7 linked regions of the Homo sapiens genome follow. The protein of the gene in region 7 purifies or fractionates together with the protein of the main gene of each other region. This does not show direct contact. Each region holds a gene or a part of one and is shown on either strand. Other genes may lie near its edges. The genes, in order: ME2, PGM1, HEBP1, CHORDC1, NAPG, OXSR1 and USP46.

What was found.
Region 1: the proteins of USP46 (region 7) and ME2 purify together in Homo sapiens (co-immunoprecipitation; one large-scale study listed by IntAct). This does not show direct contact.
Region 2: the proteins of USP46 (region 7) and PGM1 purify together in Homo sapiens (co-immunoprecipitation; one large-scale study listed by IntAct). This does not show direct contact.
Region 3: the proteins of USP46 (region 7) and HEBP1 purify together in Homo sapiens (co-immunoprecipitation; one large-scale study listed by IntAct). This does not show direct contact.
Region 4: the proteins of USP46 (region 7) and CHORDC1 purify together in Homo sapiens (co-immunoprecipitation; one large-scale study listed by IntAct). This does not show direct contact.
Region 5: the proteins of USP46 (region 7) and NAPG purify together in Homo sapiens (co-immunoprecipitation; one large-scale study listed by IntAct). This does not show direct contact.
Region 6: the proteins of USP46 (region 7) and OXSR1 purify together in Homo sapiens (co-immunoprecipitation; one large-scale study listed by IntAct). This does not show direct contact.

Annotation. Positions count from the first base shown.
Region 1 is NC_000018.10:50,923,989-50,928,202, reverse strand, and holds part of ME2 (NAD-dependent malic enzyme, mitochondrial isoform 1 precursor), read right to left. Parts: intron 4,106-4,214; coding exon 3,991-4,105; intron 2,448-3,990; coding exon 2,305-2,447; intron 1-2,304.
Region 2 is NC_000001.11:63,648,836-63,653,049, forward strand, and holds part of PGM1 (phosphoglucomutase-1), read left to right. Parts: intron 1-2,833; coding exon 2,834-3,017; intron 3,018-4,214. UniProt on the Homo sapiens protein: Catalyzes the reversible isomerization of alpha-D-glucose 1-phosphate to alpha-D-glucose 6-phosphate. The mechanism proceeds via the intermediate compound alpha-D-glucose 1,6-bisphosphate.
Region 3 is NC_000012.12:12,983,079-12,987,292, forward strand, and holds part of HEBP1 (heme-binding protein 1), read right to left. Parts: coding exon 4,074-4,214; intron 1,565-4,073; exon of another isoform or gene 266-1,564; intron 1-265.
Region 4 is NC_000011.10:90,209,256-90,213,469, forward strand, and holds part of CHORDC1 (cysteine and histidine-rich domain-containing protein 1), read right to left. Parts: intron 4,166-4,214; exon of another isoform or gene 4,101-4,165; intron 2,064-4,100; coding exon 1,960-2,063; intron 1,340-1,959; coding exon 1,281-1,339; intron 1-1,280. UniProt on the Homo sapiens protein: Regulates centrosome duplication, probably by inhibiting the kinase activity of ROCK2. Proposed to act as co-chaperone for HSP90. May play a role in the regulation of NOD1 via a HSP90 chaperone complex. In vitro, has intrinsic chaperone activity.
Region 5 is NC_000018.10:10,535,497-10,539,710, reverse strand, and holds part of NAPG (gamma-soluble NSF attachment protein), read right to left. Parts: intron 779-4,214; exon of another isoform or gene 740-778; coding exon of another isoform or gene 737-739; intron 1-736. UniProt on the Homo sapiens protein: Required for vesicular transport between the endoplasmic reticulum and the Golgi apparatus.
Region 6 is NC_000003.12:38,248,323-38,252,536, reverse strand, and holds part of OXSR1 (serine/threonine-protein kinase OSR1), read right to left. Parts: intron 2,572-4,214; coding exon 2,519-2,571; intron 1,135-2,518; coding exon 1,066-1,134; intron 210-1,065; coding exon 145-209; intron 1-144. UniProt on the Homo sapiens protein: Effector serine/threonine-protein kinase component of the WNK-SPAK/OSR1 kinase cascade, which is involved in various processes, such as ion transport, response to hypertonic stress and blood pressure.
Region 7 is NC_000004.12:52,648,999-52,653,212, forward strand, and holds part of USP46 (ubiquitin carboxyl-terminal hydrolase 46), read right to left. Parts: intron 1-4,214. UniProt on the Homo sapiens protein: Deubiquitinating enzyme that plays a role in behavior, possibly by regulating GABA action. May act by mediating the deubiquitination of GAD1/GAD67.

The sequences.
Region 1 (4,214 bases), on a different chromosome or scaffold from region 7:
AGAACAAAAGATAGATAATAAAAATGAGTGAGATATTTGTTACCATCAGAAAATTTTAATTGCAATTCACATATTCAAGAAATTAGGTGGGGCACAGTGGCTCATGTCTGTAATCCCAGCACTTTGGGAGGCTGAGGCAGGGGATCACTTGAGGTCAGCAATTTGAGACCAGCCTGGCCAACAAAGCAAGACCTTGTCTCTACAAAAATAAAAATTAAAAAATTAGCTGGGTGTGGTGGTATTTGCCTGTAGTCCCAGCTACTGAGGAAGCTGAGGCAAGAGGATTACTTGAGCCAGGAATTGGAGTCTGCAGTGAGCTATGACTGTGCCACTACACTCCAGCCTGGGCAACCAAGAGAGACCCTGTCTCAAAAAAAAAAAAAAAAAAAAAATTAAATGACAAGATATAATTATTGTTCAAATTATGAGGTATAACAGTACTGTGGTGTGTATATATATATATATATATATATATATATATGGTTTTTTGGGGTTTTTTTTGAGATGGAGTCTTGCTCTGTCACCCAGGCTGGAGTGCAGTGGTGCGATCTCGGCTCAATGCAAGCTCCGCCTCGTGGGTTCACACCATTCTCCTGCCTCAGCCTCCCCAGCAGCTGGGACTAAAGGCACCCGCCACCACATCTGGCTAATTTTTTTTGTATTTTTAGTAGAGACGGGGTTTCACTATGTTAGCCAGGATGGTCTCGATCTCCTGACCTCGTGATCTGCCCACCTCAGCCTCCCAAAGTGCTGGGATTACAGGCGTGAGCCACCGTGCCCGGCCCTGTGGTTATATTTTTAAAAGAATCCTTAGCTTTTGAGAGATACACTGTAATACTTTTCTACTATAAAAAACGTTGTTTTAAAGGAGTGAAGATTAAAAAAATGTATCAGATTTATTACTTACTCTCAAGGATGTAGTCTAGCAATTATAGCTGCTAGACATCATTGTAAACAAGCCTTTAAAAATCACTTCCTAGAGCCACTTAGATCACTTACCACAACAATATAGAAAGTAATTGTGGAGATTACAACTACATCCTTACAGAATGGTAGGAAAAAAACCCAAATGTCAAGTGATTTATAGGCAGATATTTGTAATTGGGCTATAATCCCGTGGTAGTGTCAAAGATCTAAAAGTAGTGAATCTTAAACAGTTCGGATGTAAATAAAAATTTGTTCTCCACAGCGCCAGATGACTCAAAAAAAACAGCCTTAGAAAAGACAAACACTGATGGTGAAGATGCATTTGAAGAGAGTAAAAAGTTTCATGAAATGTGAGTACAAGAAAGCAGTATTTAGAGATTGATTATTTCTACAGTACATGATTTTAAGTCTGTTACTAAATTAATAAATTACTATACAGATAAAACACAAATTCTACAAATGAAAAAATACAGCAACTAAAATTAAGAACCTAACAACAGATGAGCACAGCTGAACAGAGAATCTGCAAACTGGAAAATAGGGCCAAAGGAAATCACCAGATTGAAACACAGAAAGCAAGAGAGATAGTAAATATAGAAAACAGTGTAAAAGATAAATGAGATATATCTCTAACCATATAATTAGAGTCCCATAAGATGAGAGAGACAATGTGGCCAAAGTAGAGATACTGGCTGATATTTTTTCAAAACAGAAAAAACAAAAACCAAAAACAGACATCAAGCCATAGATTCAGGAGCAGTATAATCCCCATGTGGAATAAATACAAAGAAAACCACGCATATGTCCGCCATAGTCAAACTGTTAAAAACCTAAGACAATGCTATATCATCAAAAAGAAAACAAAAGTCAGAAAACAGTAAAATGATATCTTCAAAATGCTCAAGTATTTACCAACTTTTACGTCTATGCAGAGTGAAAATATCCTTCAAAATGAAGGCAAAATAAATTACCAAGAGAATTCATTAGACCTACACTTAAATAAAGGAATTCTTCTGGTAGAAGGAAAATGATCCTAGGTAGAAGCACTTGCAGGAAGAATAGTGATAAATAAATTAAAGTGTAGGTAAATCTGAATAATTTTTGTAAAATATAACAATAATGTATTTTGAGTTTAAAATACATAGAAAATTAAAATTCACAACAATAGTGCAAACAGTGTGAGGGCATTACAGTGGAGTTATAAAGTACCTGTTTCCCATAATTGGTATAAGCAATAATTAATATCAGACTTTGATCACCCATAGATGCATGCTGTAATCTCTAGGGAAACCATTAGAACAATGGTGTAAGAATGTATAACTAATAAGCTAGTGGAGGGAAAATAATATACATATCAATTCATGTGATTATTAATACCTCTGTAAGTGTATATGCTTCTTCAGCCGTGCACTCTGCCTGTGCTGTAGGATTACTTAATGCAAATATTACAGGCCTTTCATTGATAGAGGCCATGGCTCTGATTACATCAGGAGTGAAAAGACGGCCAGCACCTGCAACTCCTGTAATAAGTAAGGGGGAAAAACAGCAACTTCATTATAGGTATAAAAGCAATGCTTATCAATAGCATTTCTACAATAGGCCTACAATAATAAAAACACAGGTAATATCTCATTACAAAGATAGCACTATCTCAGCAATGCAAAATCTATGAGAACACAATCTCAAATCTGAAAAGAAAAAACAGTAAGATGCTGAAAGTTCTCACTTAAATATTTATTGTCTACTATACACATAGTAAATTATGGGAAATTTTATTCTTTTAACTTTTTGTTTTTTGAGACAGAGTCTCGCTCTGTCGCCCAGACTGGAGTGTAGTGGCACAATCTCAGCTCACTGCAACCTCTCCCTCCTGGGTTCAAGTGATTCTCGTGCCTCACCTTCCCAGGTAGCTGGGATTAAAGGTGTGTGCCACCACGCCCGGCTAATTTTTGTATTTTTAGTAGAGATGGGGTTTTGCCATGTTGGCCAGGCTAGTCTCAAACTCCTGACCTCAGGTGATCCGCCTGCCTCGGCCTCCCAGAGTGCTGGAATTACAGGTGTGAGCCACCATGCCCAACCAATTTTTAAAAAGAGTATATGACTATCTTCATCACTCTAATTGGGAAGATAAAACTTGCTACCACATGGATGAAACTTGACATTATGCTAAATAAAATTAGCCAGTCACAAAGAGAAAAATACCATGTCATTCCATTTATATGAGGTAGTTAAATTCATAGAGACAAAAAGTAGAATGGTGGTTGTTAGGGGGTGGGGAGTGGGGAAAATGGGGGGTTGTTTATTTTTATTTATTTATTTTTTGAGATGGAGTCTCACCCGCCGAGGCAGGTGGATCACCTGAGGTCAGGAGTTCAAGACCAGCCTGGTCAACATGGTGAAACCCCATCTCTACTAAAATTACAAAAATTAGCTGGGCGTGGTGGCGGGTACCTGTAATCCCAGCTACTTGGGAGGCTGGGGCAAGAGAATTGCTTGAACCCGGGAGGTGGAAGTTGCAGTGAGCCAACTCCAGCTTGAGTGACAGAGTGAGACTCTGTCTCAAAAAAAAAAACAAAAAACAAGAAAACAAAAAAACTTACAGCTATACAGCAAATTAAATAGCTCCTCTTTTAAACACTTTTACATTTTCTGCTGAGAATGTAATGCCATGATGACATAGTCTGATGGCATCTATGCAATGCCTGATTCAAAACACACTCAAAGTTTTCAGCTTTGTTGCCCACGAAAACTTTGAGTCTGCATAGAATTTTCCTGGTAAAATCTGCAAATGGCTTTGGTTTTTTTCATGTTTTGAGTCCAACAGTCATACCAACTCTAAAAGCAAATCATGATCGACTACACAGTGTCTAGGACCTAAAAGTATAAAGCAACATCTGGTAACTGAATTTCATGCATGGTAACCAAAAAGTTATCACAGAAAACATTGTACATGCTGAAAGCTAGGTAAAACTGCCAATTCATTTTTAGTAATCCTACATGGTAATGATGACTGGCAACATACAGTTAGGGAGTAAAATTATTTATCAGAAAAACTTTACCTACCAATTATAGTTGAAGGCTTCAGTATATTCACTGCATCTTCAAAAGTATCAGGTATGCTCTCTGGGGCTGAGTGAGTAAATGGTTCCTGATAACTATCTATTTTTGCTTTCCGTCCCTAAATTTTGAGATAAAATACAGTATTTTTTTAGTCAATGCATATTAAAGATGAAATAAAAAGACATCATTATGAGTTACACATTGTTTCTACAATAGAAATGTCTTTT
Region 2 (4,214 bases), on a different chromosome or scaffold from region 7:
ATAAAGAGTGAGGCTTTAAAAGTTTAGCTAACATAATCAAAAGAATAAATGCTTTATAAGCATTTTAAATGTGTCCATTGGGTGGACATGATCATAACATTGGATTTGGATTCAGAGAAATGGATTAGAATTTTATTTCTTCCCCTTACTAGATTGGGGAGCCATTTAGCTTTTCTCTGTACTCAGTTTTGTCATCTGTAGAAATGGGAATAACAGTCCAGCTGTTGAGAGGATTAAATGAATAATGAGTCTGAAAATGTTTTGTTAACTTTGGGGCACTGAAAGCCTAGAAACTTTTTTTCATAAATTATAGAAACAGTTATGCTTAGTCCACATCGACTTTTCTGCCTTGTGAAATAGGTCCCCAAGGGCTATATACTTGTCAATAATTTTTTTAATTTATTCAACAGATATTTACTGTATACCCGATTTCCATCGGGTACTTGGAATTCAGCAGTGAACAAAATACTTAGAATACTTAGTAATTATTCCTTATCATGCGTACTTCTATTTTTAAAAAGCATTAAAAAATTTTTGACAGTAGTACTTTTCACTAATTCCAATTTGCCTTTCCCCCAGTTAGTGTAAAAATCTAACAAGAATTTTTCTGGACCTCAGTATTCCAATTATAGAGAGAAAATATGGTAAAAAGGATATTAGATGAATTGTTTATGTATAAGAAATGAATAGGTGTAATTTCTCTGGACCTCAGTTGCCTGTTCTATAAAATGGGTGAGTTAGACTAGAGAATTTAAAAAATATATCCCAGATTTTATAGTCCGTGATCTCTGGATAGTCAAGAAAGAATTCAACTAAGTAAATTAAGCTCCTTAATCAGAATTATTTTATTAACTTTGGACGGATTCATTGATCTCTTTCTCTCTCACGTTACTGTTTTGTGGAAGGAATAAGTAATAACTACCTGACACCACACAGTAGCCCTGGGAACCAAGGCAAAAAAATCCCTACTTTATAACAGACAGAAAAACCTGGTCATTCAGAACAGCAGTCATGAACTGTCTAGAACCTAGAGTATCATAAAAACAAGGCCATGTCTGTTTTTGTGCCCTAAGCACCCAACTCATAGTAGAGACTGCATAAATACGTTTTGAACCGATAAATGAATGAGTTAACAGGTGAACAATAGCCAGAGTAGAATAAGGTTAGGAGGGGTTGTTCAGAGAAAGGGTCACACCCTTGAATTAGTCACAATCCTCCATATAAAAACTATTTTAACATGATTTTATTAATTATCAAATATAATTGCTAACCAAGTATTACAAATCAAATCCTTAGTACCTGCATTTATGATTAGTTAAAACTCCATTATACCTTCCACTTACTGAACAAAAGCGCTAGGCACTTTTGCATGCATTGTCTCACTTTAGCCTCAAAACAGTTATTGATAAGGTAGCTGAGATTCTGAGAGATAGGGCAGCTGGCCCTGTAGTCACACAATTAATAGCCAATAGAGGCTGGATTCATAGCTCATCTGTCTGATTGCAAAACCCAGACTCTTCTATTCCACCCCTCTGTGCCTAGGGTTTAGAAAACATTTCTCTGGAGTACCCAGAGGTCAAAAATGTAAAGCACAAACACCTGGTTGTAATTTCTTGTTGTTTATCATGTTAACTAGGGGAAAGAGCTGACTTTAAGATTAAGGGGACTGTTTGGCCCTTGATTCATAGAATCCTGGAGCCAGAATAGGCTGGCCTTAATTCCTCAGCATTTCTCATGTCTCAGAGGTGTCATCTTGCATATATGATATCTATTTCACGATTACAAATAAATATAGACTCTGCTATCTTGAGCTTCTAAAAAATAACTCTCTCAAGAGGGTGTATGCCACTAGGTCAAGAAAAGCCACCTGTACAAGTCTTTAACATCATAAGAAAGAAGTCAAAAAGAATTCTTGAAGGAAAACTCATCTTTATAGAATTTCATTTGTGATGCACTTTTTTCCTTGGCCCTTTTTCATCCGCACTGGGCCTCTTCTGTCAGGGTGAACCCAAAGGACCTTGGACCAAAATCCACTGCCACTGAAAGGAGGGAGGCAGAACTTAAAATAAAACAAAATTTAAAAAAAAAAATTGGGAGAGCATCAGGATAAACAGCTAATGCATTTGGGGCTTAATTCCTAGGTGATGGGTTGATAGGTGCGGCAAATCACCATGGCACATTTACCTATATAACAAACCTGCACGTTCTGCACATGTATCTTGAAACTTACTAAAATTAATGAAAAAAAAAAAGGCATTTTAGATGTAAAGAGTCAGTGTTTGGCGTCTTCATCTGGTCGGTGAAAACTTGGCCCTGCTTTAGGAAGCTCCTGTGGAGCTGGAACTCTGCTTAGTCAAAATCTCAGCAGCCTCAGGCAGGTCTCAGGCTGGGAGCAGGCCCAGCATTCACCCCAGAGAAGCCCAGGGAGCTTGGAGGAGAAGTGCCTGAGTCACGTGCTCCTTTCAAGAGAGTTCTCCAGAGATAACATTGCTTTTCATTTTACCTCCTCAGGATGTGGTGACTAAATGTTAGATAGCATCTTTCAAAAGCCTTTGAAACATCTTAGAGCTTTATTCTGTAGAAATGCCAAGATGGGTGTTTTCTGCTTATTCAGAAGCTCATAACCCTTCCCTGAAATCCTCCAAACCCTTCCTTTCATCCCTGGCCTGTTCCATCCCCAGTGACTGACAGGCCTGTATTTTTTTTGCCAGCTTCTTCTGAAGTTAGATAGTTTTGCGGGAGGGCCAAACAAATGATGAAGAAAGTGCTGACTGATAGGCCTTGGTGTGATCTGCAGTCAGCCCGTGGGCCTCAACTTCGTGACTTCTTCCAGGTATGATTACGAGGAGGTGGAAGCTGAGGGCGCAAACAAAATGATGAAGGACTTGGAGGCCCTGATGTTTGATCGCTCCTTTGTGGGGAAGCAGTTCTCAGCAAATGACAAAGTTTACACTGTGGAGAAGGCCGATAACTTTGAATACAGCGACCCAGTGGATGGAAGCATTTCAAGAAATCAGGTAGAAACAGACCGGTGTGTAAGTGAGAGAGAGACCTCAGAGCTTCATCTCTGACATCTCAAGGGAAAAATTAAAAAGTTCCTGTTGGCTATTTTTCTTTTGCTGCTGTGTTTTTCTAGGGTAGCTGTTCTTACCTGGTTTTCTGCTGTCCCACGTGACTCTCACATGCACTCGTTGGGACAGTGGTTTATGCCCTTGTTCTGTGCACTGTCCAGTACCCTCATTCTGGGATTCTTAACCTGGACTCCAGAGGGATTTTTGCACTCTCTGGAATGATATGCAAGATGATGTGTCCATTGTACATGCAGAAAGGAGCCCCAGAATCTAAGAAAGAGGGAGAACTGTGGGAACTTAGATGTCAACTCCTCTCTTTTCTGTCAGCAGATTATAGCAGAGTGACAGCATGTAAGTGGCATTATACTTATACGTTTCTCTCGTATGTTCTAATTTCTAAAGGAGAGAAAAATAGATGAGGCATTCCCAGACTTAGAAACGTTGACCATCGTCATTCGCAGCACATGAGTGGCACCCCACCTAACACAGCAGTACCTGGCAAGACGCCACAGTTTAGGACCTGGAGCATCTCTAGATGTGGACAGAATTGTTAGTGCTTCCCTTACTGTGTGCCGGGTACCCTAGGCTGCAGGCTGGGTCAGGCTTTCTCCTGGCTTCTCATGAACACTTACGCACCAGGGTTCTCTCACCTCTGCTTCTGTTGCCTGTTGTCACAGAGTAAACTCATCTCTCACAATTCATAATAGAATAAAGAGCAGGATGAAGATTCTGTTACAACCTCCCAGTTTACTTTTTTCCAATTGACCCAGATTTTTGGCCTGGTCCTTGTCAAGGCATCTCATAGGGTTTGGAAGGGCCGGGCCGTGGGATTTACTGGAGGCTTCCCTCTGGGGAGCAGGCAGTGAATGGATGGATGGGCCACAGCAACCCTCAGTGCCTGGAGTCTCCCCTCCTCAACTTCTAGCACAAGTGGTTTCTCATCCTTGTGCCTGTTTGCCATTTGTGAGAACTTGGGGTCCAGTTTGGATGATTGTAAATTATGCCTGAGATAATTAGAAGAGAGACCTGTGGTTGAGGAAGAAAGGGGTGTAGAAAAGGAGTGGAGCTGAGGGATGGCAGAGTGGGACAGAAGTTTGTGTCATTAAGCCTTCAGAGACAGAAGGGAAGTCAAGGAAAAGTAAA
Region 3 (4,214 bases), on a different chromosome or scaffold from region 7:
TAAACTCCTGGTTTCCAACTTTTTCCTTTATATCTAGACATTTCATTTAAACCGTGAAAGTTTCATTAAGACCATCAAACTTCTCCTGCTGTTGGTCCCTATTGAGAACCTGGTGCTGAAATGAGCTGAAAAGGCCAAACTCTAACTTAAGTGCATAGAGAAAGGACAGTAGTCTGGAATGTTGCTGCTGGTCTAAGTGTGAGGATAATTCTATTGCCTCTTGTGAATACTAAACATATTCTGATAGTGCTATTTTTTTTCACAGCATTCTATTCATCTAAAAGCACCGGTAATTAACGATGCTAATAAATGTATAATCCCTTTGTAAACATCTCTTCACAAGGTCATAAAGAAGGAAGACTGAATGAAGGACGCCAGGCTTTCATTTTAGAATTAATTTTGTCATTGAATGCACTCACTGCATTATTTGATAGAGTACTTTTGCATTTGAAGTAGTACATTTGCCTTCTACCATCTCATTAACATTGCTTTCAACAGAATCAGAAATAACACAAACCACTGCAGGGTAATTTTGAATGCTCATTTGACTATGCAGTGACATCAAGTGGCGAGTTGAGGAATGATCATATGCTGTGTGAGAACTCCGTGTTAAAAATTCCATGGAGCCAGGCTAGACACCACATTTGGCACTTTCAGCTGTTTAGATTTCAGAGAATTAAAAGGAAATGGTCACCGACCTGCCTTTGATAGTACCCGTATACCCCTTCCCACCATAAGAAACCAGCGTTCCTTAGAGAAATGGCTAATTCTAGCTCTAGGGCAAGAAATGCTAAGATGTGCTCAAAACATCTCATTATACCAGCAAGCCAGGGAGCCATCAACGACTACTGGAGCTGTGTCAAAAGGACCAACAAACCAACTTGAAGAGGCTCCCGCTGGCCAACAGTGGGGCAATTAGAGCATCAATAAGAATAATATCTGTAACAAACTGAAACGTATCAAATATGTTTAAATTCATATGTTTATAATTACACTCAAAAAACGAAGATGCAGACCACTTTACCTTGAGGATGTTACAGAATGAAATTATCATTCTGAAAACTGGTAAATAAAGAGAAGGTATCAAGTAAGCATGTATCTGGCTTTTTCTATATGAAATAAAGGAAGCCAAATAGTAAACGAGGGGAAGTTTCTCTTTACTGAAATATTGCAGGTAATAAAAGAAGAAGGAGAAACAGAGAACATTATCGTTTTATGGCCTCTAATGGAACAAGACATCTAGGCAATGATGAACTATGGTCACCAACATCACTCAATCAGGGACAATCAGACACTGTGGGCCCCTGAAGGAAGTAAACACCACCACGTAGGAAATATTCTCACCAAAACTTCAAAAACTTGAATCTGATCTAGTCTTTAGTTTCAACTACTAATTTACAGGCAATACGGGGCTCAGAGGGATGTGGTAAAATGTCACGGAAATATAATCAGCAAAATCCAGTACAGATAATAAGAAGACAAATGATCCACAGATGGAAAGGAAGAATGTAAAGTTGTGTTGGTAAAGAAATTCACAGATTAATAAAAGCTTAAAAATGTACCATCAGCCAGGTGTGGTTGTGTGCAACTGTAGTACCAGCTACTTGAGAGGCTGAGGTGGGAGGATTACCTGAGCCCAGGAGTTTGAGGCTGCAGTGAGCTATGATCACACCACTGCACTGCAGCCTGGGCAACAGAGCAAGGCCTTGTCTCTTAACAACAACAACAAAAAGAAAGTACTACAAAATCTGACTTGGATCCAGATTCTAACAAAATATTAAAACAAATGATGGCCAGGCGTGGTGGCTCACGCCTGTAATCCCAGCACTTTGGGAGGCCGAGGCAGGTGGATCACAAGGTCAGGAGTTCAAGACCAGCCTGGCCAAGATGGTGAAACCCTGTCTCTACTAAAAAACTACAAATATTAGGCACAGTGGCAGGTTCCTGTACTCCCAGCTACTTGGGAGGCTGAGGCAGGAGAATTGCTTGAACCCAGGCAGCAGAGGTTGCAGTGAGCCAAGATCGCACCACTGCACTCCAGCCTGGGCAACAGAGAGAGACTCCGTTGGAAAAAAAAAAAAAGTAATGGGGGAAATCTGAGCATTGAATATTTTATATTATAAATTAATGAAGTACTATTGAAATTTCAGAAAAAAGGTATTGTGATTATATTTTAAAAAAATCTTCAGTAATTACCTGAAATATTTATGAATGAAATAATATAATGTCTGGAATTTGCCTAAAAATAATCCAGGGTAGGGCTGGGTGAATGCTGTGAAGATACACATGACACAGAATTGGCCTTGAGCTGATCGTTGCTGTAGGTAGGGGATGGGCACATATGATTTCATGATCTTATATGCTTCTACCTTTCTATAAGTTTGAAAATTCCCATACTAAAAAGTTAAAGACAAAAGAAAAAAAAATTATATCCACTCATTACTCAGGGTCTGGTAAAACAAATGATCAGAAACTAGCCCCATCTGCTTGAAGTCTTAATGTGAACTGATTCAATCATGTCTATCTCATTCCTTATGAAATAAGAATGAACAGACAGAAGGGGTAATTGCCAAAACCTGCTTCAGGTCATAAACATTAGGTAATACATAAATAGTATCTTAGTAAATACTGAAAGATATTTAACAATAATCCTATAAGGTTACATTACATGCACACACACACACATCATATATAGGAGGTTATATTATCAGCACTTAACAAATGCAAAAGCTAAGTCTTAAAGTGGCTAACTTCCCAAGCATCATTCTGCTAGTAAGCAGTAGAGCTGGAATTCAAATAAAATACAAGTTCATTTTATTATACCTGCTGCTTCCCAAACACAGGAAATAGAATGGAAAAGACAAGCAGACATCTAACCCAGGGCACAAGATTTAAGGAGGCGCTCACTCTCAGTCCCCATCCTGCACTTGGACAGCTGTGAGAGTGAGTGCTTCCTTAAATGCTGCACCCAAGGTGCATCTCCACCCTAGGAAAAGATATTGTTAAGTTAATTTGCTTTCTCCACACCCTCTGAAGGGAAGCTGGGAAGTCTGAATGAGGACTGCAGGACAAGCACAGGAGCTGAGGCTCCGGTGCTAGCTCCCAGCTGCATTACATTCACTGTCCTCTGGAGGGCCCTGCAGTCACCTGGCCTAGGACTACACACAGCGGTGAAACTCACATTCTCAGAACATTGACACAGCTCCGGGGAAAATGGTCCCACCATCAGGTTCAGGGTTGCAGCAGGGCAGCCAAGTTTGGAGGTCCCTGAAGTGGACCAATACTCAGTCCAGTGCAATATTATATGTATGTGAATTTTTCATGAGGTTGCTCCTGAGCGGAGCCAAACCACCTATGATTACTTCTGGTGAAGATCCTGGTCTTTCCCTGAGCCTGGTTTGGTGCCTGTCACATGGGAGTGTTTTAACAAATGTGAGGAGTCATCAATGATCTAGAAGACTTGGTTTCTGAGGGCAGTTTGGAGCACAAGGGATAGAAACTAGTAACCATTTGCACCTGCTATTCTCTACAGTCAAGGGAAAATGACCCCACATGAAGTCCTGGAAACAGGACCAGGATGACAAGAGAATAGATGTGTGCTCTGCTCAAAGGACTACCATCCAGGAACAACAAGGAGGATGGAAGCCCAGCTCTAGCAAATGCTCCCTGCTCTCTGGCATTCAAAGGGAGTGTGGGGTAGAAATCAGGTATTCCTCAGCCCTTTATGCTTCCCATGTGTCCACGAATCCAGACCATGGCTTGACTTAAGATATTTGCTGAGTCTCCTAGAACCCTGCTATGGCTAATGTAGACATTCACTGTAAGCTTAAGCAAAGCTTAAGCTCGTCCCATCAATTTGGCAACTGGCCAAGGCATTTATTCTGATAAAATGCAAATGTGTGTGTGCTGCAGCCTGAAGAAATTAAAATGAGAAACTGTTAGGATTCAGCATTTCCTACTTAAATTAATTCAGCAACCATAAAAATTTGACGCGAATGCTTGCCAGAGGTGATGCAAGGAGTGGTACGGGAATCAAGCGCCACCCATGGATGCCTGAAGGATTGTCTCCTTACATGGAATAGACAGTGATGCCTTCCCGTTCCTCAATCTTAACGCTTTTGTCACTGGGAGCTGGTGGGTCGCTTTGAAATTGGTTTGGAATCCGGAACCAGACTTTTAATTTCTTCTGCAGAGAGCCATCTTCATTGGGGAAC
Region 4 (4,214 bases), on a different chromosome or scaffold from region 7:
GTTGGTTAATGGTGTCACCAATCACCCAGATGCTTGAATTCCCTTCACATCGAATCCATTAGCAAATCCTGCTAATACAGGCAGATGCTCCTTTGCTTACAATGTGGTTATAGCCTGATAATACCATTGTTAAGTCAAAAAAATCTTAAGTTACACCATGGTAAGTTCGGAACCATCTGTACTTTCTGTACTTTCAAATTCTATCATTCATTCTACACGCACTGTTCTAAGGATTCAAGATACAACAAAGAAAAAAAATCCCTATCCTCACAACTTTTACTCAGCATGGGGGTTAGATGGTATAGCTCAGAAGTAAAATAAGTATACAAAATAAGTAATATAAAGTGATTAAGAGCGATGGAGAAAAAAGGAGAGGGAGAAGAAATGTTGGAGGATATGCAAGTTTTATATCAAGTAGCAAGAGGCAGGAAAATGGCTTACTGGTATGTTTGACCGCATCCCACATTTAATCACTTCTCAACAAACTACTCTCCAATCCCACTGTCTGGTCTTCCACAATAGCATCCTAGCTGGTTTCTCTTCTTCCAATTCCACTCCTGCTGCATCACCATGTATTTACCATTCACCAGTCACAGAATCTTTCTAAAACCCTTCCCTAAAGCAAGTAATAGCTTCTCCTAATACTTAGAATAAAGCCCAAATACCTCATCATGGCTTAAAAGAACCACCATAATTCTGTCTACCTGTCTTACCTGCTACCCTTGCCCAAGCTCCACAGACCTTGTTATTCCTTGAATAGCCAAGTTCTAAAGCCTCTGCTCATGTTACTGCATCCAGAACACTCTTCACCCAGGTTTACATAATCCATCCAGTGCAACATGAAGATTTCTGATTTAGTGTTACTATGTCAAGAAGGGCTTTGCTGATAAGCACTCCTTAGTATGTTTTATTTTCTTCCTATCATCCTGATTTTGTAATATCTAACTACCTATTTGTTGCTCTTCTCCCCATTCTAGAATATCAGCTCCATAAGAAAAGAAATGTTTGCTTTATTTGATACTATGTCTCCAGCCCATAAAATGTCTGGCACATAATAAGTGCTCAGTAAATGTTAAGTGAATTGGAATTACTTATTTTCATTATTCTACTGGACATGATGCTACTCAGAGTCTCTTATCCATGATTGTAGCCCTAGTCCCCAGCATAATGTTCAATATATAATATGCATGCAAATGTTTGTTGAATTGAGTCAGCAAACTGCACTTTCCTCAAAATTAAAATTTTACTTCATAACACATCACAAATCTTGTGATATATACCTTTGAACACCCTCCATTCTTACATGAGGTCCCAATCTTAATTTCATCATTGTCTTCTTCTGTAACAAAGAAAAAAAAATCAAATTAAAAAGTTAAAATAGAACTTCGCTGTGGCATCATTCTTAAAAACTAGGTTTTTCCAGAAAACAATACTTTTTAGAAAACGACTGTGACTAGGATTTGCTTATATCCCCAAATTGATATATGACACATTTCTTCTTCTTTTGAGGACCTGGTGTCTTCAACAATGCAGGACACAATTTTTTCCATAACAAAATGTTATATCCAGTATCTTAACTTTGTAAAATAAATCATGAAAGGGTGTTTTCCTCCCATGGTACCAGGTATAAAGTCAGAGAATAGTGAATATATTTTGTATAATGTACAAGAAAACATTTTAAAATATCAAAGAAATTTAGCTGATTCTTAAAAAAATAATGAACCATAAAAGAAAAAAAATTTAATATAGGTTCTCGTTTTGAATAAAGACATATGGAATTAACCTATTAGGTTCTGAAGTATTTGTAGTTTATCATATCTGACATTTAGAAGAAAAAGTTTCTTAACTACAATGTGCGACTTTTCCCTATTTATATGCAGTAAACTACTATTCTCTCTTTTGGATAACTGCTTAACTGTACCAGAAAATAATTAACAATAAAACAAAATAAAATCTTACCTTTCTTATTTTCTTCATTCCCTGATGACAGTTTAAGTTTATCAAGTGCTTGTTTTAGGGAGGCAGATATTTTTAATTCCAAATTTGTCATTGGTTCATCTGGGCTGGAGAATTTTGAAACCTTATTACCATTATTAATATACCAAAATATTTCTTTGTACTCCAAATTAATAACCTTAAAAGCTTTCTGAGAAGCCAAATGCTTTGTGTATCAAATGATTCCCATTAAAAGGTTAAAAGGTATTTTATAAATAATTGTTACAATGTATCTACATTCTGTCTTAACAGAAAAGCTCCTTATATTAGAATAGTAAGTCTCAAATAATCACGCTATTGTCAGCATATTTAAGTATTAATCAGTTGCACTAACGAGAAAGGAATAAAGACTAGGAATCCAAGGTTTTCAAGATGAGTAATGCTGAGGAAGGGACCATAATGTACTTTTACATCCCATGCCCAAGCTCAATGCTGAGCACATAATAAACATGAAATATAAGTAAGTTCTAAGTGAATCCATACTCACTTCTACCAGTGGAGATAATTTATGTGGACACTGGCATATGGATCTGTAAATTCAGATACGATCGTATTGCAAGGCAATTTCAGTAGGGTTTAAAAAACAACATCTTCTAACATTTCATAATGGCTAAGTGTTGTATACATAATTTAAGTCCACTCAATAAATAAGTATTAAACATATTAATAAACACAGCAATAAAAATAAAAATCGTAGGCTATTCATTCTATATCCTCGATGAAAAAACTGACAAAAGAGGCATTTTAAAAGTACATAGGCAAGGCATGGTCGCTTATGCCCATAATCCCAACACTTTGGGAGGCTGAGGCAAGAGGACTGCTTGAAGCCTGGGCAACAAAGTGGAACCCTGTCTCCGCAAAATAATAAAAAATATTAGTCGGTCACTGATATGGTTTCCCTGTGTCACCAACCAAATCTCATCTTGAATTCTAGCTCCCCTAATCTCCACATGGTGTGTGACAGACCTAGTGGGAGGTAACTGGATCATGGGGATGCCTTTTTCCCATGCTGTTCTCATGATAGTGAATAAGTCTCAGAAGTTCTGATGGTTTTTTTCTTGCCTGCCACCATGTAAAACATTCCTTTATTACTCGCTCTACCTTCTGCCATGATTGTGAGGCCTCCCCAGCCATATGGAACTGTGAGTTCATTAAACCTCTTTTTCTTTATAAATCACTTAGTCTCGGGTGTTTCTTCGTAACTGTGAAAATGGACTAATACAGTCATAGTAGCATACACCTATAGTTCCGGGGAGGGTTAGGGAGGAGGATGGCTTGAGCCCAGGAGTTAAAGGCTGCAGTGAGCTATAATGCCACTGCATTACAGCCTGGGTAAGAGAGGGACTTTTCTTCTTAAAAAAAAGAAAAGTATGTAAAAACTGATATCCTCATAATTGTTATAATACCACCAAATGAATTTAGGATAAAATATTTAGTTTTTCTCATCTCACTGCCTTTGTCCTTTTTTTTCAAAAAGTCAATCTCAAGATCCTCCTGCCTCAGCCTGAGTAGCTGCAACTACATGAGCACACCACCAAACCCAGCTAATTTATTTTTTTTGGAGAGACAGGATCTCTTTCAGATTGGTTCTCAAACTCCTAGGCTCAAAGGATCCTCCCTCCTAGGCTTCTCAAAGTGCTGGATTATGGGCTTGAGCCACAGTGCCTGGCCTCTCACTGCCCTTTAAGTAAAATAACAGCCCATCATTTAAAGAAAAAATTAACTCATACTATTATAGTACAGACTGTATTATATTACTAAAGAGATTAAGAATGAGCCATGACTGAAGTTTTGTCTTTTCCCAATTATTTTTCTAACTGCTAAACTGGCCAAAGCATTCAATGGTCTCCTCTAACTATGAAGATGGAGAGAGAATAAAATCATCCTGAGTAGTTTCCTTAGCAATAATCTGTACTCAGAGTGCTAATGAACAAATAAACATCTAAAGTCTCTTAGGGTTCTTATCTTGGTTCTATATTATTCAATACTCTATAAATTTATTTAAGTAGGATCAAAGGAGAATAAAGGGAAAATCATGAGTTCATAGCATGAATAAAAATTACAATAAGTGCCTACTTGCAGCCAAAAAAAAAAAAAAAAATCACCTTTTTTTAAGTCCTGTAGTTTGCTTCTAAAACAATTTAGTACTCAAGTGTAGCACGAAGAAGACCTGGTTCAACAAAGGTACTCAATATACATGTGTGGGAATACAGAGTCTG
Region 5 (4,214 bases), on a different chromosome or scaffold from region 7:
AAACAGAGTTAACAATCTGAAATGCAATTATTTTTTATTTTAAGTTCTGGGACACATGTGCAGAATGTGCAGGTTTGTTACATAGGTATACATGTCCCATGGTGGTTTGCTATACCTATCAACCCATCATCTAGGTTTTAAGCCCCGCATGCATTAGGTATTTGTCCTAGTGCTCTCCCTCCCCTTATTCCCCAGCCCCCGACAGGCCCAGGAGTGTGATGTTCCCCTCCCTGTGTCCATGTGTCCTTGTGGTTCAATTCCCACGTATGAGTGAGAACATGCGGTGTTTGGTTTTCTGTTCCTGTGTTTGTTAGTTTGCCAAGAATGATGGCTTCCAGCTTCATCCATGTCCCTGCAAAGGACATGATCTCATTCTTTTTTACAGCTGCATAGTATTCCATGGTGTATATGTACCACATTTTCTTTATCCAGTCTATCACTGATGGGCATTTGGGTTGGTTCCATGTCTTTGCTATTGTAAATGGTGCTACAATAAACATACGTGTTTACTGTATAAACATACGTTTCTATAGAATGATTTATGTTCCTTTGGGCATATGCCCAGTAATGGGATTGCTGGGTCAAATGGTATTTCTGGTTCTAGATCCTTGAGGAATCCCCACACTGTCTTCCACAACGGTTGAACTAATTTACACTCCCACCAACAGTATAAAAACTTTCCTATTTCTCCACAGCCTGGCCAGCATCTATTGTTTCCTGACTTCTTAATCATCACCATTCTGACTGGCGTGAGATCTCATTGTGGTTTTGATTTGCATTTCTCTAATGATCAATGATGATGAGCTGTTTTTCATGTTTCTTGGCTGTATGTCTTCTTTTTCTACAAGGAACTTAAATTTACAAGAAAAAAAAAACCCAATCAAAAAGTGGGCAAAGGATATGAAATACAATTATTTTATCCCTAATTCATGAAAGTAAATGACTCAAATACATTGTATAGCAATAAAGATATTTAAAATGAAATGCTTCACATGATTACTCTCCCAATCAAGCTTCATTAAACCCAATCAAAAAGGTACCAGGTAATTTCTACACAGAGTTCATCATCACTTCACAGACCTTTGGGAAATCTATGAAAATAGAAAAAACCAAAAACCTTGCTCTTTACTGTTTTCTAAGCACTTCTTATTCTTTAAACATTTACCAAGTCCCTACTACATACAAGACCTATGCCAAGGATCACAAACTGGCAGCCCAATGACTCTATCTCACTTCCAAGTGTGTTTTGCTTGATCCATGCAGTATTTTTAAATTAGATACTTTCATGAAAATTGTTTTATGGCTTTCTTCAAAAAAATATCAAAAGCTACGGCATCAGCAGGCTTGCATCCCTGTATGGCAACAGGCTGGGGCTGGGCAGCACTGTCCCGCCACATGAGCATGCACCTCCTGGCGCTTCTCCCCGCTCTTCACTTCCAAATGCCCTCCACGTCCCAGCTGCTCATTCATTTTAGTTATTCCTCTACACCCTGAGTTCATCTGAGTTTGCAACCCTCTTCCATGACTAATAAATTCTGTATCTTACTATTAATCTACACATCTCAGGATCATGCAGTCCTAATGTCTAATATCTCCAAATCAAACATTTTAAAAATAAACTTAAAAAAAAACACCGTTTAAAAGCTAGTTATAAAGTTTACATAAGCAACTTATTTAGTGTTGACTTGCTGTATCTTAAGGTAGGCTCCACACTGACATCTCATGGGTGGTTTACAAATCTGCCTATTCAGTCCCTTGCTAAGTTGACAAATTCATTAGGATACCCTTAACAAAACTGGTCTCATTTTCGCCAACCCCAAAACATAACTTTATTATTTAGCTATGGAAACTAACAATAACACAGACTGAAAGACACTGTATGAAATAAGACTGCTATCATTCACTCAAGCAGAATGAAATGCTAATGCATTTCCAAACCTCAGTGAAAAAATAAAAACAATACTTTTTTTGTTATAAAACCAAAAGTCAATGAAAGAATCCGAGTCTACAATATCTGCTGAAAAATATCTGAATGAACAGGGGAGGTAAACCTAACAAAATCTCTCTCAGACACATTAGTCCTGAGGGTCATTTTGGCTTTTAAAGAATACAACTGAACCTTGAACAGCAGAGATTTAAACTGTGCTGGTCCAATTATACGCAGACTGTCTTGCTCCTCTGCCACCTGAGACAGCAAAACCAACCCCTCTTCTTCCTCCTCCTCCTCTTCCTCCTCCTCAGCCCAAACGTGAAGACTATGATGAGGATGAAGAGCCCTATGATGCTCTACTTCCACTTAAAGAACACTAAATATATTTTCTCTTCCTTACGATTTTCTTAATATTTTCTTTTCTCTAGCTTTATTCTAAGAATACAGTATAAAACATATTCCATACAACATACAACATATGTACTAACTGACTGTTTATATTATTTATAAGACTTCCAGTCAGTAGTAGGGTAGTGGCTCACGCCTATAATCCCAGCACTTTGGGAGGTTGAGGCAGAAGTATCACTTGAGCCCAGGAGTTTGAGCCCAGCCTGGGAAAAACAGCGAGAACCAGTCTCTACCAAAAAAATTAAAAAATTAGCAGGGCATGGTGACATGCACCTATAGTCCCAGCTACTCAGGAGGCTGAGGTGGGAGGATCGCCTGAGCCCAGGAGGTTGAGGCTGCAGTAAGCCATGATTGTGCCACTGCAATCCAGCCTGGGCAACAGAGCAAGATCCTGTCTCAAAAAAAAAAAACAAAAACAGGCTATTAGTAAAGTTTTTGGGGAGTAAAAAGTTATATGTAGAGTTTCAACTGCACAAGGGGTTGGCATCCCAACCCTTGGGTAGTTCAAGGGTCAACTGTATTTCCTCCCCAAATATACCTACCCACTAATTACATATATAATGTGAATCTACAACATAAAAGCATTTGGGAGGATAAAAAAACCACAGGAACTATTCGTCATGAGTTTTACCCAGTAGATAGAGCAAAAAATACATTAGAAGGCAGTAAAAATGGCATCCGAGTCCTATTTGTTGTTTAAAAATTAGCAACTACATCTTCCTGTTTTTGCGTAAAATCAAGTGAGGCTGTGAGTAAGAGGTCCAACCACAATATTGATACTTCTCCATAAAAAATGATGAGCTGCCTACTTGAAAGTTATACCCTCCACCATAAATATGCCTATTTTCAATGGCTGTGTGCCAGTGGAGCAAACAGGATATGAAATCACAGCAGTCATCAAGTGACAGAACCAAAGGTTGATCCAACAAGTTTCTGTGGCTTCCCTTGTGCATATGTCTACAAAATGGCACTCCCCAAGCCTTTCTGGTGAATCAGTGTGAAGGTTTGTATGACAAATTGGTAGAAATTTTAGCCCACAGAATTGTGGACCACGTAGCTCAGGGGTCCTGTGCTCCCAACAGTGTCCAAAGGCATTTAATTTAAATATAAGACAATGCCAGAAAGCATTTTCCTTCATCTGTTTCCCTATCCACTAAGTTAATTTTCTTTCATTCAAAGTAGTGCCTTTCCAACCCTCAAATTAAATAGATACTTGAGCAATGGAAATGATGCCTGAATAATAACTTTTGATGAAGATTCAAGTCTTAGTACAGCTGTTGTAATATAAACTGAGGCTGTGAGAATTAGAGTGTTTGAGCATTTCTTAAACAGGCATGAAGTACACTAAGAATGTAACAGCCACCTGGGAGCTTCCTAATTCTCAGAGGAAAATGAGACATAAGAAGACCAGAGCAGATCCCCAGCTTCTTTGGCCGTAAGAGAAACTCTATGGTTTCAAAGGAACTGTGGTTAATAACCTAACTTGCGGCACCAAATACCAATTCAGTTGCATGTTTGGCCAGAAAAGCTTTATTTCAATGGATATATAATAGTTTATAATAAGGAAGCATCATAATTTATTTAAACACTTTCCTATTATTATTATTACTTTGAGACAGAGTCTCGCTCTGTTGCCCAGGCTGGAGTGCAATGGCACGATCTCGGCTCACTGCAAACTCTGCCTCCTGGGTTCAAGCAATTCTCCTGCCTCAGCCTCCCAAGTAGCTGGGATTACAGGCGCCCGCCACCATGCCCAGCTAATTTTTGTATTTTTAGAAGAGACAGGGTTTCACCATGTTGGCCAGGCTGGTCTCGAACTCCTGATCTCAGGTAATCCACCCACGTTGGCCTCCCAAAGTGCTGGGATTACAGGCAT
Region 6 (4,214 bases), on a different chromosome or scaffold from region 7:
CAGCCCAGGGCACTGGGGAGGCTAAATGAACACAATCCACCACATTTTAATATTCTCATCACTCAGGGGATATAGAAGCTGGTCTGGAGAAGCTGCCAGTGTATAAAAGGCAAGATGTTTTCACAAGGAAGAAGGGATGAGTACCAGTTTGAAAGTGACAGATCGATTTGACTGAGGTTCTTCCACAATTTTCTGCAAATTAGCTGCCACTGTAATCATACAAACAGAGAAGGTAATGAATGAGAAGTTACATAAATCCACTTTCAACCATATTTTAAAAGCTTAAATGGTAGTTAAGAATATGCTCCGTACAATCAAAATGGAAGCAGACAGATCAAATAATCACTCCCCTAATGAAAGTGTCTTTTAAACTCATTTCTGAGTAGTACACCTTGAACCACTGTCAAATTAACTTTCTTTAAAATGTTGTATTAACCTAGGAAAAACATGCAGGTAAAAGAGGTATGATTTCCTGATTTATGGATCAGAAAGCCCAAGGCCAGAAGTCAACAAACCAGCCTGTGGTCTGTTTTTGTTCTCCGGCAAGCTAAGAGTGGTTTAAAAGTGACAGACACTGTACATGGCCCGCAAGGCCTAAACTATTTATTATCTGGTTTTTCACGGAAAACTGTGTCTAAGGACATGGTCTTTTCCTTCAGTAACATGGACCTGTGGCCTCACTGGGCCTTCTCTCTTCCTTCCTGCTTTTCTAGTACTAAATCTCTAATGACTTTTGCTCAACTTGGGCCACAAAAATTAGGTATCCAAAACAGATCAGATATGGCCAAGCTTACTTTAACTTGTGACTTTTGCCATAATTTCTATTAATCTCCTAAAGACCTTGGGTGTGCTTTCACTTACCATCATTGGAGGTCACAAAGCAAACTCAGAGGTGAAATTTTGTGTGTGTGTAAGGAACTGTCCCATTACCTATAATTTCAGGAAAGCCAAGAACCATTTCAAGAACCATCAGACCTACTCAGTGGAATAAAAAACCTGCTTTTCTATGTACTAAGTATACAGACAGAGACACAGGAGCACATGAGCAGAACGCAATGGAGTTACCTATTACTAAATCCCTTCCGTCGACCAGGCCAGCAGAAATGAGTTCCTGAGAGACACCCTCTGCTGTATCTGCAAGGACAAAGAAGACAGTGCTCTGTTTTTTGTGCGTGCTTGCCACTGTTAACTCTCACAGCTCATGTGGGTGTCAGTGTGCCATGCTAGGCCCAAGCTGGATGCTAAATCCACAGAACCAAGAAGGCAGGCAGGGCCTTCCTTCCATACAAAGACTTTTCCTACCACTGAGATTATCTCAAGTGGAATTCTCACAGATCTAGCTAGAGGGCAGAATCTGTATAAACCAGGTAGCAAATATCTGAGACATGATGTTGAATACTGAACATCTCTAGGGCTAAAAAACCAGAATGATTTATTCTCAAAAACTAAGGCAACAATTTTTGTCTCAAAAAATTTTTGTCTCTTCTCTTTGGGAATCATACTCCAAGTTTTTTGCTAAAATCATTTACTTTTTTATTCTGGTGGGCTTTTCTTCTTATCTAGTTATTCCAGGTGGTACAATCTGAGCAATGGGTATAACCAGAAACTAAAAAGATGAGGACAGAATATCCCCAATTAACCTCATCTTCAACCAACTCAGTGGTATTGGTTGCCAAGGGCTTGAAAATGAGCCCCTCAGAGGGAACAGGAGGACTGCGGTGGAGACAGTGTCCACACATTCACACAGGCAACCAGCAATTTGAATTAATTCCTGAAAATGTGATGTTGCCTGGTGTTTAAAAAGTAAAACAGGTGACACCTCTGTACACCTGCATCTTTTCTCTTTAGTGGTTAGTTGCTCATGATAGTGAGACAGCAAGAAGAATAAGCATGATACACAGAACAGATACTTGCTGGCTACTCCCCAAATTAGAACACTGAGTAATAAAGGCAAGAAACAAAACACACCTTGTTCAAGGTGAAGTTCAACAGCCAGAAACAGTACATGACAGACCTCAGCTTCTGTCTGAGGAGAGAGGAGACTGCAGACCTTGTTTCTTTACCATCATGGAGAACAACCATGTATAAAGAATGAACTTTGGATTCTGACAGATCTGGTTTGAATTCCAGCTATACCTCTTTCCAGCTGTGTGACCTTGAACAAGTTACTTTGCCTTTAAGTCTTGATTTCATCATCGATACTATGGGGATAATAATTTTTCCTTAGTAGACTGCTGTGAGAATTTAATAAGATAACGCTTAAGACAATGCCTGGCCTATAGTAAGCTGTAAAGAGCTATCATATATTTATTACTGTTTGTATTATTATACAAGGTTTTCTAAATGTGTTTAGTAGTCAACGAACTGCATTTTTATCTCACTCATATACTCGCCAAAACCAGGAAAATTTTTATTATCCTTTAAAAGCAAAACTTCACAAAGGACAGAAACTTCACAACACATTTCATTGAATCACAAATTGGAAGCTATTTTGTTTTCAATCCATTTGATGCCTCACCTCTCCCAGGAGTAAATTCAAATCGAATATCATTTAGTTCTTTTTTGGAATTCCTATGAAAGAAAGCAGAATGCATAAAATAAGAATTTCTAAATTTATGCAAAGAGATTCTGCCAACATATATTAAGAAAGCTGTGCCTCAAGAAAGTCTGTTTTGTTCCCATAGATCATATGATGTATTCAGATATGTTCACACTGCAGAGCTCAGAGCAAAACCAATTCGGAATGACCATCTAATTGTCCTACAACCCTTTGAATCTATGTCCCTTACTGATCAATATAAAAATTTCATGCCTTTGAGTAGATTCTTATATGCCCACTCCCATCCTTATTCCCACACCAAGAACATATAAAACTAAGAGGAAAATTGTATGAGCACAGGGAGGTGTGATTAAAATGATACAGGATGCCTTTTTCATCCTTATCCCCACTCCTACATGCCCACAATTCATTGCCTACCTCTGGTGATCAGTCTTGGCAGACTCATAAAATGAAATACATGATACTCCCTCAAATTCCATAGGAATTCAAAGAATATATGAGAGATGGGGATAATAAGGAAAAATTTTAGAGGTAGTTTTTATATAGGACTTAACAGATATGCAGGATTTAGGTAGGCAGAGAGGATAGGGAAAGGAATTGGGTCCATACTGGTAGCAGAGTTACTATATGACTCCAGAAATTCAAACCTGACTGGTGAGGTACAGTTACAGTGATGATCACACCATGCACTGAGATTAAGCAGGATCCCTGGAGGTTTTGTTTAAAGACAGAGAAATGAGAACACTATATCTAAGGGCAGATATGCCTGCTCACTTAGGACTCAAATCTATTTTATATAAATAATGGAGAGGGTTTACTTCTATTTGATGAATAATATACTTGAGGATGTTACTGAAATTGTGCTTAAAATAGAACTACCCATCTCAAATATAACATGCCCCAAATGATTTTCCCTTGCATTGCGTTCTTTCTACACAGGTACATACAAACTTATACTTCTGCATGTATATACTACCTGAAATTTGCTTTTAGCTGTGTAAGTACATAGTTCAAATCAACTTCCAACCTAGACTTGATTATTAAGGGAGTCATTTAATTTTCTCTTTTCTCAGTATCCACCTTTCCACAGTACCGAAGAGTGCTATACATAGTCTGTGCTTAATACATTTCACAATAATTTTCTTAAAGTGTTATTCTTTATGTAGATTTAAAACAGCATGAAGTTGTCAAGACATCCTAGTAACTCAGAATTTTTGAGATGAGACCAGGTATACTAAGTAGGCTTCTGTAAAGGAAAGGTAACCAAATATGTTTTTCACATTTATGGCATAAATGCATTGCTCCTAGTGGCAAGGAGCAATGAGATTCTCCTTACCACATTCTCTTAAATAGCTCTTGCTGCCTCTATCTCCAATTAGGACCTTACAGAAAGATGACTAGGAATTTATATGTGCAAGGGGAATGAGTTAATGGTAATTCAGTGGAACTCTTTTTTAAAATGTTAGTAATAGTTTTAAAAGGCCTGAGTTGCCTCAAGTGATACTTTAATACTAATTTTTTTTCAAATGCATTTATGAGTAGAAAGAGACCTAACTAGAGCAATACAACAGCCATAGTGATTCTGACAAGAAAGCTCTGGAATTTGAATCCAGCTACTAGTGCTAGGGGCGGGGGGGGCGGGGCAGGGAGTTAA
Region 7 (4,214 bases):
GGGCCTCTCTCTACCCGTGTCTCCCAATACCACAGAAACAGGGCCACAGGGCCCCCTCACCACCACAGCACCCAGTCAGAACCAAACCATGCTGTGAATTTGGCCTCTGCTTTTGCCAACTTCCTTCCCCAATGTCACTCCTCCCAAAGTGCCCCACTAAATGTGGACAGCAGGTCAAAATGGAAGTAGAATTTCACTGGATCCTGAAATACCAACAGCTTTGCACTTTGAGCAAACAGAAGGAAAATAATGATGAACTAAAAGAGTGAGAATAATTATGAAAACTAACAAGCATGAAGGCATCATAGCTCACACAGTGCTTCCATGGGCAGGATCTCTTCTGATGCTCCCCAAAAAGCTTTAAAGAAGGTATTTCATTGACTACCTTTGTTGTAAAAAGATAAATAGGATCTGAGATTTACCAAACAGGATTCTGAATTCCAAACTCCTCCACTTTACAACTATATGGAAAATAGAAGTTGTTTTGTTTTTCCCAAAGCCTTGCTGCTCTAAAAATGGTCCCGAAACCAGCATTATCTGTACCACCAGAGAGTTTGTTAGAAGTGCAAAATCTCCGCCCTGCCCCAGACGTGCTGAATCCAAATTGACATTTCAACTAGACCTCCAGCTAATGCCTATGCATGATAAAATTGGAGGCATACTGCTTTACTCCAAGGCAATTCTTCCATTCTACCAAATTACATCCCTTCATTCATTTATCAATATTTATTTATTGAGCACCAACCACATATGTGCTAGGCACTGTGCTGACAGCTGGGAAATCAACACTGAATAATACAAATAAATACAGTTCCTGCCCTCATAGAGTTGTCAGTCTAACATGGTGGTTTATCAACCTTGGATGCTCACATCGGAATCAACTGTGGCACTTAAAATACACACACACACATACACACGCAGGTGCCTAAAATTCACCCCAGACTACCTATATCTACATACTGTCAGAAACGCTGGAGACTGGGACCCTAGAAACTGCATGTCAATAAAGCTCCAATTGGTGGAACCACTTTGGAGAGCAATTTGACACACCTAGCAAAGCTGCAGATGGGCGCATCCTAAAAGCAGCATATTGACTTCCAGGATTATACCCTAAAGAAATGAAGACACCTGAGCAAAGAAGACAGAAGCAAGAACATTCGCTGCAACACTGTTTCCAGAGAGAATATTGTAGAAACTACCAAACTGCCCCTAAATAAGAGAATGAATAAGTAAACCATGGTTAAGTCAAAGAATCCTGTTACAGAGCAGTCAGAATGAATAAACTCGACCTCTATGTGTTGACATAATCTCAAATATACTTGTTGAGTAAAGAAAGACAGTTGCAAAAAGCTACACGATTTTATCCACACACAAACGTTGCAATCCATTGCTTATGAATTCATAAATACAAAGTAAAGTATAAGACATGTTTGGTAAACACCATATCAACTTCAGGAAAATGGTTTGCTCTGGGAGGAAGAGAAAGGAAAGAGATTGGGTTGAGTTAGTGTCTGTTTTTAAGGTAAAAGAGTCTAAAAAGAGTTAGTGCTGTTTTTACAGTAATATGTCTAAAAATAAAAGTAACCAAATATGGCTACATTTTAATATCTGTTAAATCTGAAGGGTAGGTAAACATATATAACATTATTTTTTCATGCTTTTTTGTATGTTAATGTTTTGTGATTTAATTATTATTTTTAAAATTTCTTTTAAAAGCTTCACAGGTGATATGATATAAAGCCAGTGCTGAAAATCTCTGTTCTGAATATATAAACTAATACAAAACCTGGCTATTTAATACCAAGAAAAAGTTAAGTTGGCCGGGTGCAGTGGCTCACGCCTGTAATCCCAGTACTTTGGGAGGCCAAGGTGGGCGGATCACGAGGTCAAGAGATCAAGACCATCCCAGGCAACATGGTGAAACCCTGTCTCTACTAAAAATACAAAATTAGCTGGGCAAGGGGGCACGTGCCTGTAGTACCCTACTCAGGAGGCTGAGGCAGGAGAATCGCTTGAACCTGGAAGCAGAGGTTGCAGTGAGCTGAGATCATGCCACTGTACTCCAGCCTGGCAACAGAGTGAGACTCCATCTCAAAAAAAAAAAAAAAAAAGAAAGAAAGAGAAAAAAGAACAGAAAAAGTTAAGTTACTAGCTTAAATAATTTTACATTCATTTTTTTAAAAACTTTCACATGGCAGGTAATTTCTTAAGCAATATTTTTTAAGAGGCTGAGGTTATTACCCAAGGGAAGCAATATTTCTCCAAGCATGGTCCTCAGCTCACCTATAACAGAATGTGGAGGGAGTAGAAGGAGGAGGGAACACTAATTTAAAAGGCAGATTCCAGAGCCCCAACTAAGACCTACTTAATCAAACTCTCTGGGTGTTGAACCCCAGAGTCTAAATTTTTAATAAGAGAATGCACATGTGGGAACCATTCTTTGGTACACCAAAGAACCTAAAACCATACATTTCTTTGTTTAATGAGGTAATACTCATCATACTCTGAAAATTAAAATGAAGTGTAGAGAATACTTTCTAAATATTTAAGACAGTAATTCCACCAGTATATATTCAAGCAGATCCAGATAAAAATTTTCCTGCACTGTGTACCTAACCTGAAGGACAGAGAAATGTATTTTAGGAAGATGACCATCGTTTCACAATGCCTTTCTAAAAGAACTTGAAAAAGCAACTGGGTAAACAGGAAAACTCTGCAAGTCCAGCTTTGCTGCTGTTCTCACCAGAACAGGCCCCAGACACGATTTTCACTAAAGCCAATGTCAATTAAACAAAGCAAATGTGGCTTGAACAAGGCCTTGCTGGCACAGGCAGGTCTCCCAAATTTACTCTCAAAATTCAAGGTATCTTCTCAGTGCTACTCTATTATCTTTTTGTTACTAGTTTTCACCCCTCCACAGTGATTATCTTGTCATCATTTTTTTCACCTGCATCTTCCAATCCATCCCTACCTTTCATGACTTTTGCTTTGGTCTCCTTGATTTTCCTCTTCACTGTCCCTTCTTCATTGTCCCTGTTTTCAGACAAAACCAAAACTACAATCCTGACTTTCAAGACCTGGAAAACTGTTCTCAGGCCCCTGAGTTGAAAACAAACCAGCATAACAAACACATGAAAAGATGTTCAACCTCCCCTAGCAAACAGGAAAAGTGCAAATTTTAAACCACAAAGGCACAATGTCACACCCATCAGACTGGCAAAACATCAAGTCTAGCAATATCAAATATCTGCAAACATGTGAAGCAACTGGAACCCCCAAACGCTGCTTGGTTGGAATGCAAATTGGCATAACTTCTTTGGAGAGCAATCAGGCAACTTATTAAAGAAGACGATCAAATTCCTTTGACCCAGCAATTCCCTTCCAGGTTTACACCACAGAGAAACTGTCAACTGTCAACTGTGTATACTATACACAGGGAGATGAGTTCACAACTGTTCATTGCATTAAAACAGCACACTCACAAATTTGTAAACCTGCTTACAACATTAAAATGAATGTGTCATAGCATATTTATATAATGGAATGTTATACAGCAGTTAAAATAAACTAGGATTATGTGTCTCTCAATGGATAAATAGCAAAATCACAATTTAAACAATAAAAGCAAACTGAGAGGAATGTTTAATATTATAAAGCATGTTTAAAACATGAAAAAATACACTATATCTAGTTTATGAATGCATACAAATCTAGTAAAAATATAAAAATATACAATAAACACTAAATGCAGAATAGTGGTCACTCTGTGGGGAGAGGCAATGAGATCAGGAAGGACTCATAGGTGGTTTTAAATGTATATATAGTATTTTATTTCTTCACTGGGTGGGGAGTACACGAGTATTCACTCTATTATTCCACATTTCTGTATGTCTAAAATTCACCATCACTCAGAAAAAAAGGCAAAGTCTGAGCTAATTTAAAAAGTATCTGAGGGTTCTAAAAGTGACATTGGAACTTGAGGAAGAAAAGGAAGGTTGGCCCTATGAGGGTAAAGTGAAGCTTTGGCGACCACAGAGTCCCATCACCATGATCTTAAAACTATCCATTGCAAAGAATCATTCTGAGAATTGGGGTAAACTTCCATGTACAGCACTTACAGCATCCCTCAAACTTCAAGCCATAGTCCCAGAAGAGAAATATTCCAAAAACCCTTTACTGTTAGGGTTGTTCGCTAACACAGAGTTCGTCTCAAG